Linked DNA regions of Homo sapiens. The protein of the gene in region 1 interacts with the protein of each later gene in a pairwise test. Each region holds a gene or a part of one and is shown in the gene's direction. Other genes may lie near its edges.

Region 1 (6,748 bases):
CCCCCTCTCACCACTCCTACTCAACATAGTATTGGAAGTTCTGGCCAGGGCAATCAGGCAAGAGAAAGAAATAAAGAGTATTCCCTTAGGAAAAGAGGAAGTCAAATTGTCCCTGTTTGCAGATGACATGATTGTATATTTAGAAAACCCCATTGTCTCGGCCCAAAATCTCCTTAAGCTGATAAACAACTTCAGCATAGTCTCAGGTTACAAAATCAATTTGCAACAATCACAAGCATTTCTATACACCAACAACAGACAAACAGAGAGCCAAATTATGAGTGAACTCCCATTCACAATTGCTACAAAGAGAATAAAATACCTAGAAATCCAACTTACAAGGGAAGTGAAGGACCTCTTCAAGGAGAACTGTAAACCACTGCTCAATGAAATAAAAGAGGATACAAACAAATGGAAGAACATTCCATGCTCATGGGTAGGAAGAATCAATATCGTGAAAATGGCCATACTGCCCAAGGTAATTTATAGATTCAGTGCCATCCCCATCAAGCTACCAATGACTTTCTTCACAGAATTGGAAAAAACTACTTTAAAGTTCATATGGAACCAAAAAAGACCCCACATTGCCAAGACAATCCTAAGCAAAAAGAACAAAGCTGGAGGCATCATGCTACCTGACTTTATAGTACAAGGCTACAGTAACCAAAACAGCATGGTACTGGTACCAAAACAGAGATACAGTCCAGTGGAACAGAACAGAGCCCTCAGAAATAATACCACAAATCTACAACCATCTGATCTTTGACAAACCTGACAAAAACAAGTAATGGGGAAAGCATTCCCTATTTAATATATGGTGCTGGGAAAACTGGCTAGCCATATGTAGAAAGCTGAAACTGGATCCCTTCATTACACCTTATACAAAAATTAATTCAAGATGGGTGAAAGACTTAAATGTTAGACCTGAAACCATAAAAATCCTAGAAGAAAACCTAGGCATTACCATTCAGGACATAGGCATGGGCAAGGACTTCATGACTAAAACATCAAAAGCAATGGCAACAAAAGCCAAAATAGACAAATGGATCTAATTAAACTAAAGATCTTATGCACAGCAAAACAAACTACCATCAGAGTGAACAGGCAACCTACAGAATGGGAGAAAATTTTTACTATCTACCCATCTGACAAAGGGCTAATATCAAGAATCTACAAAGAACTTAAACAAATTTTCAACAAAACAAACAACCCCATCAAAAAGTGGGCAAGGGATATGAACAGACACTTCTCAAAAGAAGACATTTATGCAGCCAACAGACACATGAAAAAATGCTCATCATCACTGGTTATCAGAGAAATGCAAATCAAAACCACAATGAGATACCATCTCACACCAGTTAGAATGGCAATCATTAAAAAGTCAGGAAACAACAGATGCTGGAGAGGATGTGGAGAAATAAGAAAGCTTTTACACTGCTGGTGGGAGTGTAAATTAGTTCAACCATTGTGGAAGACAGTGTGGCAATTCCTCAAGGATCTAGAACTAGAAATACCATTTGACCCAGTGATCCCATTACTGGGTGTATACCCAAAGGATTATAAATCATTCTACTATAAAGACACATGCACACATATGTTTATTGTGGCACTGTTCACAATAGCAAGGACTTGGAACCAACCCAACTGTCTATCAATGATAGACTGGGTTAAGAAAATGTGACACATATACACCATGGAATACTATACAGCCATAAAAAAGGATGATTTCATGTCGTTTGTAGGGACATGGATGAAGCTAGAAACCAACATTCTGAGCAAACTATCACAAGGACAGAAAACCAAACACTGTATGTTCTCCCTCATAGGTGGGAATTGAACAATGAGAACACTTGGACACAGGGAGGGGAACATCACACCCTGGGGCCTGTCGTGGGGTGGAGGGTAGGGGGAGGGATAGCATTAGGAGAAATACCCAATGTAAATGACGAGTTAATGGGTGCAGCAAATCAACATGGCACATGTATACCTATGTAACAAAGTTGCACGTTGTGCACATGTACCCTAGAACTTAAAGTATAATAATAATAGAAAAAGAAAATTAAATAAGTTGGAAATACAGTACGCCCAGCCAACAGGCAGACACTTGAAGAGATTATGGTAAATCCATTGCAAGGAATAACATTCAGCCACTAGAATGAAAGAATTAGAGGTATAAATTGAGGAGATTTCATTATTAATTAGGAAAAAGGTTTGCCTGGAAATTCAATATGGAATGGTTTGATTTTTATAAATGAAACAAAGTGGAAAGCCATGTGTTCTATCTAAACATATACATGCCAACACATCAGCAACCCTACTCGTTGATGTTGATCCTAGAGAAATGCATGCACATGTTCATAGGGAACATGCGCACAAATATTAATAAGAGTATTATTTTGTTTTGGAAAAATGGGAACTGCATAGGCGTGGATCATTAGGAACAGGATAAATTGAAAATGATGAAATGTACAAAATTAAAATAAATGAACTAGAGTTCCATGTATTTACATGGGTAAACATAAAAAATATAAAGTTGAGCTGGAAAACCAAAGTGTTGATCAATGTATACATTATGAAGACGTGCTTTAAATAAAGGAAGAGATTCTATATTGTGTACAGACACAGAAGTAGGTAGCAAATATATACAAGTCTCCATGGGCATAATTGCTGACTTCATTATAGAGGAGCACAGTGGGGAAGGAGAGAGCAGAGTGGGTCAGGGAAGACGTAATAGGAGGGTTTTGCCATATCCAATATATAAAAGATAAACAGTAAGTAGGGCCTAATATTTAAATTTTATACAGCTAGCTATTGGTGTTTATAATATTAATCTCTCTTCTTTGCCCTACGTTTGAGATTAAGTCGCAGTAAAAAAAAATTCATGCTAAAAACAAGCAAATAAACTGCAAAAGTAATCCTCCCATTTTTGTTTCATGAGGGTAGGATTGTACATGCTATAGACTTCCATGCAAGACCCAAATTCCTGGAAACAGTAAAATAAGTTCATACCTGTACTGAAAAACAATTCAGAGCAATTATCAATGGACCAGAAACTGCGAGAATTCTCAGAATGTGGGACAGCAGATGGAGCCAGACTACTGTTTTGAGTAGGTCATGTCCCAGAACGCGTGCAAAGGTTATCCCAAACGGAGGGCTGGCTCAAGAGTGCTCTGTGTCCTGGAGAGGTGCTTTCTTTGCTTGACCAAATTGATTTATTGCTAACTTACCCAACAGGAGGTCTCGGTGGGCTCTAATTATAAAGAAAATTTCAGCAAGACAGGCATAAAGTATTCATTTGTTTCTTAAGAGTTCAGTTAAGAACACCTATAAAATCTTTTCCATCATGAATTCCTTCAGCACGCATTTATTAAATGCCACACTCACACACCGCTTGGAAAACCTTGAGAGGCAAAATCTGTGCTTACCATGTAATAAATGCTTTTCATTTTTTATCTCATTTAATTCTCACAACCCTATGAGGGCTGTACTTTAGCCCCACTTTATAGATGGGAAAACAGGCTTAGAGAGAAGTGACTTGCTTAAACTAATACCTTGAATGACATAAGAAAGATATAGAGTGCTAGTTATAGGGCTTTCCTCAATGGAGTAAAAATGGACTCATTACCCTTTTGGGCAGATCAAGACAAGCTTCAGGGAGAAACAGGTCTGTGAGCAGTCAAATGGAATTTAGATAGTTGGAGAAGGCTGAGAAGACAGGTCAGGCAGAGCAAACAGTGAGCAAAAGCAAGCAGTGGATAAAGTTCAGAGTATGCTCTGAAAGAAGCAAAATAAATCAGGAGTCCAGGAAGACTGGAGCCTAGAAACCTTGGAGCCAATCTGAACTCCATCATCCCCTCCACATTCCCCACTTCATCCATTCTGTCTGCAAAGCCCTTCAACGGTCACCTTTAAAATGTCTTTCTGCCTCTCCATCCCCATGGCAACAGCCTTAAGGCATACTTTAGTTCCCAGTGCTTCTTATTCCAATTGCTTCCTATGTGGTCTGCCAGGAAACAGTTTGCTTTTCTGAGAGGCTGCACAAATGCAATTCCTCTGATCCTGTCACTGCCCTGCTTTCATACATACATACATACATATATGTGTGGTAGATATATGCACTGTATATAAACATAATGTGGTAGATATATGCACGATATAGGTATGTATGTATGTATGTATAAAAGCAGGGCAGTATATATATCGTGCATATATCTACCACATTTTAAAGGCTCTGCACCTCTTTCACCCTGCTTGTTTCTGCAGTCCCATCTCCTCACATCATCCAGCACATCTGCCATAACAATATTATCCGGGTCCTACATGGGACCACAAATTGATTAGTATACACACAAATGCCTTCTGAAAACAGGGCGAGTGAATGAACGCGCTGTGTAAGCCAAGACAGGAAAGGAAGGCTGGAGACAGCTGACTCCTTCCAAGAATACACCCTCCCGCCACCCCTGGCCTCCCAACCCCCAACACACACACAGCCCGTCGTCAGTGGGAATGGAGCCGACGCACTCCTTCCCTAGACCGTCGAGCCAATCTTGGAATGTTTGTAGTAGGCTGAAAATACAGAAACTTTAAGCTATTTTTTTCTCTTCTGCAAACTCCAGGCCCCTCCAATCTCTAGCTGTCATTTCTGCCCTTGTCCCACCCCTGTCGCTGCCTGCCCCTTTTCCTATCTGCTAGCGGAAGTCCCTGTGGAGGACCAGCCTACTTCCTCTTTGGTGCTAGGAGTGTGCGTGGCAGGAGAGGCGGGGCCAATTTTGCTGAGCTTTCTCGCGGGCTTGCAGCTGCGGCAAGTGCTGGCGGCGGCTGCTCGCGCAAGTCAGCTGGCGTGGGAACTACCCTTTGTAGCTGAGAACGGCTTGTTTATTGCTACAAAGACTCTATTGACATTGGTAGCTTCAGCGGCAGCAGCTTCTTACGGTATAAAGCTGTTGCTTCCTGAAGAGGCTACAAGCATCCTTCCCTAGGACTGCTGTAAGCTTTGAGCCTCTAGCAGGAGACATGCCTCGGGGACGAAAGAGTCGGCGCCGCCGTAATGCGAGAGCCGCAGAAGAGAACCGCAACAATCGCAAAATCCAGGCCTCAGAGGCCTCCGAGACCCCTATGGCCGCCTCTGTGGTAGCGAGCACCCCCGAAGACGACCTGAGCGGCCCCGAGGAAGACCCGAGCACTCCAGAGGAGGCCTCTACCACCCCTGAAGAAGCCTCGAGCACTGCCCAAGCACAAAAGCCTTCAGTGCCCCGGAGCAATTTTCAGGGCACCAAGAAAAGTCTCCTGATGTCTATATTAGCGCTCATCTTCATCATGGGCAACAGCGCCAAGGAAGCTCTGGTCTGGAAAGTGCTGGGGAAGTTAGGAATGCAGCCTGGACGTCAGCACAGCATCTTTGGAGATCCGAAGAAGATCGTCACAGAAGAGTTTGTGCGCAGAGGGTACCTGATTTATAAACCGGTGCCCCGTAGCAGTCCGGTGGAGTATGAGTTCTTCTGGGGGCCCCGAGCACACGTGGAATCGAGCAAACTGAAAGTCATGCATTTTGTGGCAAGGGTTCGTAACCGATGCTCTAAAGACTGGCCTTGTAATTATGACTGGGATTCGGACGATGATGCAGAGGTTGAGGCTATCCTCAATTCAGGTGCTAGGGGTTATTCCGCCCCTTAAGTAGATCTGAGGCAGACCCTTGGGGGTGTAAAAGAGAGTCACAGGTACCCCAAGGAGTAGATGCCAGGGTCCTAAGTTGAAAATGATGTCGATTGGGGGCGGGGGACACTGTATTTGATATTTGTGATCAGTGATCATTGTTCAACTGCGAAATAGAGTGTTTGCTTTTGATAATGGAAAATTGTATTCGTTTTAAAATTCCGTTTGTTGAGAATAACAATATGTTTAAAAATATAATTGAACAAATTTTTTTCTTTGTTTCCTGTCATTGACATTTAGTATAACAGTTTTGCTAACGTTCTAAAATGAAGTCGTTCCATCATAATCTATGATCTTGTACAGCACTTATAGAAATAAGCTGTTCTTTTGAAGTTGAAATACCCAGTAAAATGTTGAAGAAGGATGGAGGATTTCTTCATATCTGACGTTTCTGAAACCCTTTGTGTCTGCTGTTGTGTGAAGATTGACATTTACCATGATTTTCCTTAGTTACTGCAGAACATAGAGAAAAATAAAAGCCTAACGAATAGTACATCTTGCGCATTTTCTGACCACCTGTTATGTGAGGCACCAGTCTAGATTCTAGGGATACTCCCTAGTACACATCCTCCAGGTCCAAAGAATGTTCTAGATTATGTGGGAAAGAAAAATAGGTAAACTGGCAGTGCAGTAAATGCTGGGATAGAGAACGAGCCTGAAGTGCCATGAAAATGTAAAAAACCTTATGTGACCTGTCTTGGGGAGTGGGCCGGGGAAGGGAGCACCATAGGATGTGTGAAAATTCAAGAGACACTTAAATAAGTTTGGGGGGGACTGAAATATACGATCAGAATATATGATGAAAATATTATGTATTAGATATTTGATTGGATACTCCACCCAGCATAGGGGAGGGAGCACTGGCAAAAAGAAGAGGACATCACAGGGTGCCTGCCACGGAAGTAGAAAATACACAAAAATCATCTTGAGAGGAGGAGGGCAGAGAGAAGGGGTGGTTGCAGGGGAAAAGGTTGTCATGGGGTACTTCAGAAATAAAAAAAGATGAGACCGTCAGAAAATCTTGGTGAGGGGACAA
Region 2 (5,759 bases), on another chromosome or scaffold:
CCTTAAGAGAATACCACAGACTGGTTGTCTTTAACAGAAATTTATTTTCTCACATTTTCAAAGGCTAGTAGTCCAAGATCAAGATACCATCAGGTTTGGTTTCTGGTGAGGCCTCTTCCTGGCTTATAGATGGCCATCTTCTTGCTGTATCCTCACATGGCCTTTCTTCTGTATGCATACAGAGAGAGAGCAAGCTCTCTCATCTTATAAGGACAGATACCATTCCTACCCGATAGGGCCCTTCCTTATAACCTCATTTAACTTTTAATACCTTCCTCAAGGCCCTATCTCCAAATATAATCATATTGAGGGGTTAGGACCTCAGCATATGTGAGGGAATACAATTTAGTCCGTAACCAGTATGTACCTCAGAAAGTCATTGTGAGTATCAAATACAATTTATGAAAAGCACTTGGCATGCATTATGCTTAATACATGGTCACTATTGTCACAAATCACCAGTGCCACCCTTGCTGATTTGGGTTCATACTTGGAGTAGAAAGATATCAGATATGCTTAGTAAGTGGCAGAACTGTATGGGAGAATCCAGTGAAATCAGACTTTGCCATTTCCTTCTCTGTAATCTTCTGAGTGGTGGCAGTGACCACCCTTGTGGATATAGTACTGAGCACTTGGGACTGAGTCAGCTGCTTTCCCATTCTAGCCCTCCCTGCAGGAATTGGCTCTAGCTTGTCTGATTTCCCACACATAAAATCATGCCCTCTTACTGACTTTTTGTTAATGTTCTGACAATCAATCTGTAGCAAGGTTCTACTGTTTTCAGTTTCATATTACCCCTATATGCATCAAAGCTGCAACTTCCCTTGCCTCTTTGTCCCTAGGTTCTGTTTATTTCATTTACCCTAGCAATTATGGATTTCTATTACATGGAACTCATCTCTTGATTTAAATTAAAGTGTATGTGTTGAGTAAATTCTGTGCAGACCTTCTTATAGCTTCTGTGACTTTATCAGATTAAAATTGCTTCTGATATCATTTTCCCTCTTTATGAGCATCTTTCCAGTCAATTTGTTTCTTTCTTCTTCCTCTCTCTATGAACTTGGACCTTTTATTTTCTAGCCACTTCCTTTCTTCTACCTTCCAAACTGCATCTAGAACCCTGCTGAGTATCCCCTTTTCCAAGAAGCACATCTATATTTTCCACCTATCCACTTATCTATCCATCTATCATTCAACAAGTGTTTATTAAGCATCTACTATGGCTGTAGGAGAATATCCAGAGGGCATCTGGAGACTGGAGTGTTCTCCTTGTAGGATATCAGCGCAGGTATGTGTTACAAATTTAGATAAAGCCAATATTATAAAACAACATAGTGTTTGAAATTACAAGGACCAAATTCAAGTTCCAGCTTTTCAAATTCTTAGCCAAGCAATATTTAATAGGTAAGCTTGAGTTTCTTTTTAAGTTATGCTGATTATTTAAAAATCCAAATAATACAAAAGTTTATATAGTAAAAAATGGAAGTTTTCCAAATCCTACTCCCTAGAGGTAGCTACTCTTGTCACTTTGCTGCATATTTTGCAGACGTTTCTCTATATAGTCTGCCTACCCATATATATGTATCTTCCCATATTTTTCTTTTTTTTTTTTTTTGAGACAGAGTCTCGCTCTGTCGCCCAGGCTGGAATGCAGTGGCACGATCTCGGCTCACTGCAAGCTCCGCCTCCCGGGTTCATGCCATTCTTCTGTCTGAGCCTCCCAAGTAGCTGGGACTACAGGCACCCGCCACCATGCCCGGCTAATGTTTTGTATTTTTAATAGAGACAGGGTTTCACTGTGTTAGCCAGGATGGTCTCGATCTCCTGACCTCGTGATTCGCCCGCCTCGGCCTCCCGAAGTGCTGGGATTACAGGCGTGAGTCACAGCGCCTGGCCCATATTTTTCTATAGTTCTTTAAAGAGATGGGATAATAACATCGAGTTTTGTGGTGAGTCAGTTTGATAATATATCTGAAAGTGCTTCATAAGTCATGAAAGTTGTATAAATGGTAATCATTAAAAGGTGGGAAATGTCTGAATTTTTATATTCTACCCAGCTCCCTTATGGATTTCAGATTTAATACGAAGTTTGAGGAGAAGGGCAGTACTGATCCCACTTGGGGCCCATCTGTTCTCTACAGACACATTTTTATTTTCCAAACCTGTTGTGATCCCCCAGCTAAAAGGAGGAGGAGAAACATGGCCTAACAACAGAGGAGTCCTAAGAGGTACCTATTCTTGTATGTGAGAGACAGGACAGTTAGATATGGGAGAAAGAGGCAAATATTTTGGTCAAAAGAGGAGGCCTGGGTCTGTTGTCCTCGGCCTTTTTCTGGGTTGCAAAGTGAAATCAGACTATGTGCCAGGCATGTTTCTCAGGAATAAAACAGAAGGTTCCTCCTCTCGTAGAGATTAGATTGTAGCAAGAGGGAGATAATAATAAATATAAAAGTAAAGAAATGATACAGTGTGTTAAAAGGTGATGAGGCTATGGAATAAGGCAAAAATAGAACAGGATAAGGGAGATTAAGAGTGCTACGGATGAGGCAAACAGATTGTGATATTAAATAGAAGAATTAAGATAGACCTCATTGAGAAGGTGAGTTGAACAAAGACTTAAAGGAAGCGAGAGAGTGGGCCTTGCTTTCATTTGAGGTGAGAAGTTTCCAGGAAGAGAGAAGCACTAGAGCAAAGGTCTTATGATGGGAATGCACCTTGGATAATTGTGGATTTGAAATTCATAAAGTATAGTAGTCCTCACTATTCAAGGGGGATACATTCCAAGACCCCCAGTAGATGCCTGAAACCAAGGGTAATACTGAACCCTGTATATACTATTTTTTTCCTATACATACCTAAGATAAAGTTTAATTTATAAATTAGGCATAGTAAGAGATTAACAACAATAACTAATAATAAAATGGAACAATTACAATTATAATAATATGCCAGCCTCACTACTTTTGCACTTTGGGGCCATTATTAAGTAAAATAAGGGGTATGTAAACACAAGCACTGAGACACTGCAACAGTCAATCTCATAACCAAGATGGCTACTATGTGTGCAACAGGCAGGCAGCATGTACAGTGTGGATATGCTGGACAAAAGGAAGACTCATGTCCTGGGTGAGACAGAGCCAGATGGCATGAGATTTCATCATACTACTCAGAATGGTGCCAAATTTAAAACTTAAGAATTGTTTGTGCTGGGCGTGGTGGCTCACGCCTGTAATCCCAGCACTTTGGGAGGCCAAGGCGGATGGATCATGAGGCCAGGAGTTTGAGACCAGCCTGGCCAGCATGACGAAATCTCATCTCTACTAAAAATACAAACAAACAAAAAATTAGCCAGGCATGGTGATGTGTGCCTGTAGTCCCAGCTACTCGGGAGGCTGAGGCAGGAGAATCGCTTGAATCCGGGAAGCGGAGATTACAGTGAGCCAAGGGGCAACAGAGTGAGACTCCGTCTCAAAAAAAAAAAAAAAAAATTGTTTGCCTCTGGAATCTTCCATGTAGTATATTTGAACTGTGATTGACTGTGGGTAGCTGAAACTTTGTAAAGGCAAAACCACAGATAAGTGGGGACTACTGGACTGCCTGAAGCACCTAAGTAGTAGAAGTTTAATACTTGTTCTGAAAATGAATGAATGAATACATGAAGTAACTTTCCTTGGAAAGGGTCACTTTGAGGTTATCTCAGAAAGGAGAGAGAGGTGTAAGGGAATACTCCAGAGAAGCCACCCTAATCTTTAACCATCCCTCCCTATGAAGTATAAAAAAGGTACTGCCAGCTGGGTGCAGTGGCTCACACCTGTAATCGCAGCATTTTGGGAGGCCGAGGTGGGTGGATCACCTGAGGTCAGGAGTTCAAGACCAGGATGGCCAACATGGCGAAACCGCGTCTGTACTAAAAATACAAAATTAGTTGGGCGTGGGGGTGCGTGCCTGTAGTTTCAACTACTTGGGAGACTGAGGCAGGAGAATCGCTTGAACCTGGGAAATGGAGGCTGCAGTGAGCTGAGATCACACCATTGCACTCCAGCCTGGGCTACAGAGTGACACTCTGGCTCAAAAAACAAAACAAAAAACAACGACTCAGGCCAAGTCTACATGGGGATGGACTGACCTGCATTATGCCAAAGAGGGCAAACGTTCCTCCCTACGTAGGGGAAAGTGTTACCACACTAGCCCTTCTGTTTCTAGCCCACTTCCTTTTCTATGATATATTTTTATAGACATAGTCACCTTCCCATAGGCTCAGGGAACAAGTGACATTTACCTAGCCTTTTTCTTTGTTTCAGATGAAGTAACCAAGACTGAGGACAGAGAGTTGGTGCTAAGGAAAGACTGTCCTAAGATAGTGGAACCACATGGGAAAATGTTTAATGAGCAGACCTGGGAGGTATCACAGCAGGATCCCTCACATGGAGAAGTTGGTGAACATAAGGATAGGATAGAGAGGCAGTGGGGAAACCTCTTAGGAGAGGGGCAACACAAATGTGATGAATGTGGGAAGAGCTTTACTCAGAGCTCAGGTCTCATTCGACATCAAAGAATTCATACTGGAGAAAGACCTTATGAATGTAATGAATGTGGGAAAGCCTTCAGTCGAAGTTCTGGTCTTTTTAATCACCGAGGAATCCACAATATACAGAAACGGTACCACTGCAAGGAGTGTGGGAAGGTCTTCAGTCAGAGTGCGGGTCTTATCCAGCATCAGAGAATCCACAAAGGAGAAAAGCCGTATCAGTGCAGCCAGTGCAGTAAGAGCTACAGTCGGCGTTCATTTCTCATTGAACATCAGAGAAGCCACACAGGGGAGCGACCTCACCAGTGCATTGAATGTGGGAAAAGCTTTAATCGACACTGCAACCTCATTCGCCATCAGAAGATCCACACAGTGGCTGAGCTGGTCTAGGGCTTGGCTATGAGCAAGTTTTCCAGATCACCACCCAAGTTGTGTGGGGCAGGTTGAGACTAGAAAATGCCTCTTTCTTCCTTTCTCCATGAAATGTGTTTGAAACAAATCCTGACTTAAGGCCCAGGGACTTCCTTAAAGGAAAGTTGGGTGTTTGAAGCTACTGTTTTCTCTTTTGTTCATTTTACCTCTTTCTTACTCTTACTAGCTGTGTCCCTCTTATTTATAATTTATTTATTTTTTTGAGATGGCTGCTAAACCCTTCTAATAATATAATAAATGGCACTGCCACAGCCAACATGCCTGAAAGATTTGGTATCTGTGTTTAACTACAAAGGATAACAGAGTTCTACTGATGGTTTATAACAATTGGGTCTTTGGTGTTCCCTGTGACCAGGGTCTACACTATAAACACCTTTTCTACCTTACTGCTTCTCTCTGACACCTACGTGACTCTCCCTTGGAAAGTGACCAGCATTGGCTGTGTGTTTCAGTGTCTGCAGTGTGTGTCCGCTTACTTAACCATAGTTGGTCCTCACAACAGCCACACAGGGAAATGAGCGTTATCATTATCGCATTTTACAGATGAGGACTCCAAGGCTTAGAAAATCCAAGCATCAGAGCCAAGGCTGAAACCCTGAACTTTTATTTTTAGTAATGCTTTAATTTTGGAATAATATTTGACTTACAGAAATGTTGCAGAGATGGAGTTCTCATATTCCCTTCACCTAGATTCTCCTAATGTTAACTTGTAACATCACACCTTTTTAGTTAAACCTTGGCTTTTAACTCCAAATCTCAATTTCTTTATGATGTCAAGCTTTGTACTGATACCAGATTT

Evidence for each region.
Region 2: the proteins of MAGEH1 (region 1) and ZSCAN9 interact in binary tests that used the Homo sapiens proteins (3 or more experiments, as listed by UniProt).

Annotation. Positions count from the first base shown.
Region 1 is NC_000023.11:55,447,362-55,454,109, forward strand, and holds MAGEH1 (melanoma-associated antigen H1), read left to right. Parts: upstream 1-4,765; 5' UTR 4,766-5,013; coding exon 5,014-5,673; 3' UTR 5,674-6,205; downstream 6,206-6,748.
Region 2 is NC_000006.12:28,228,261-28,234,019, forward strand, and holds the end of ZSCAN9 (zinc finger and SCAN domain-containing protein 9), read left to right. Parts: exon of another isoform or gene 1-996; intron 997-2,057; coding exon of another isoform or gene 2,058-2,228; intron 2,229-4,301; coding exon 4,302-4,918; 3' UTR 4,919-5,227; downstream 5,228-5,759. UniProt on the Homo sapiens protein: May be involved in transcriptional regulation.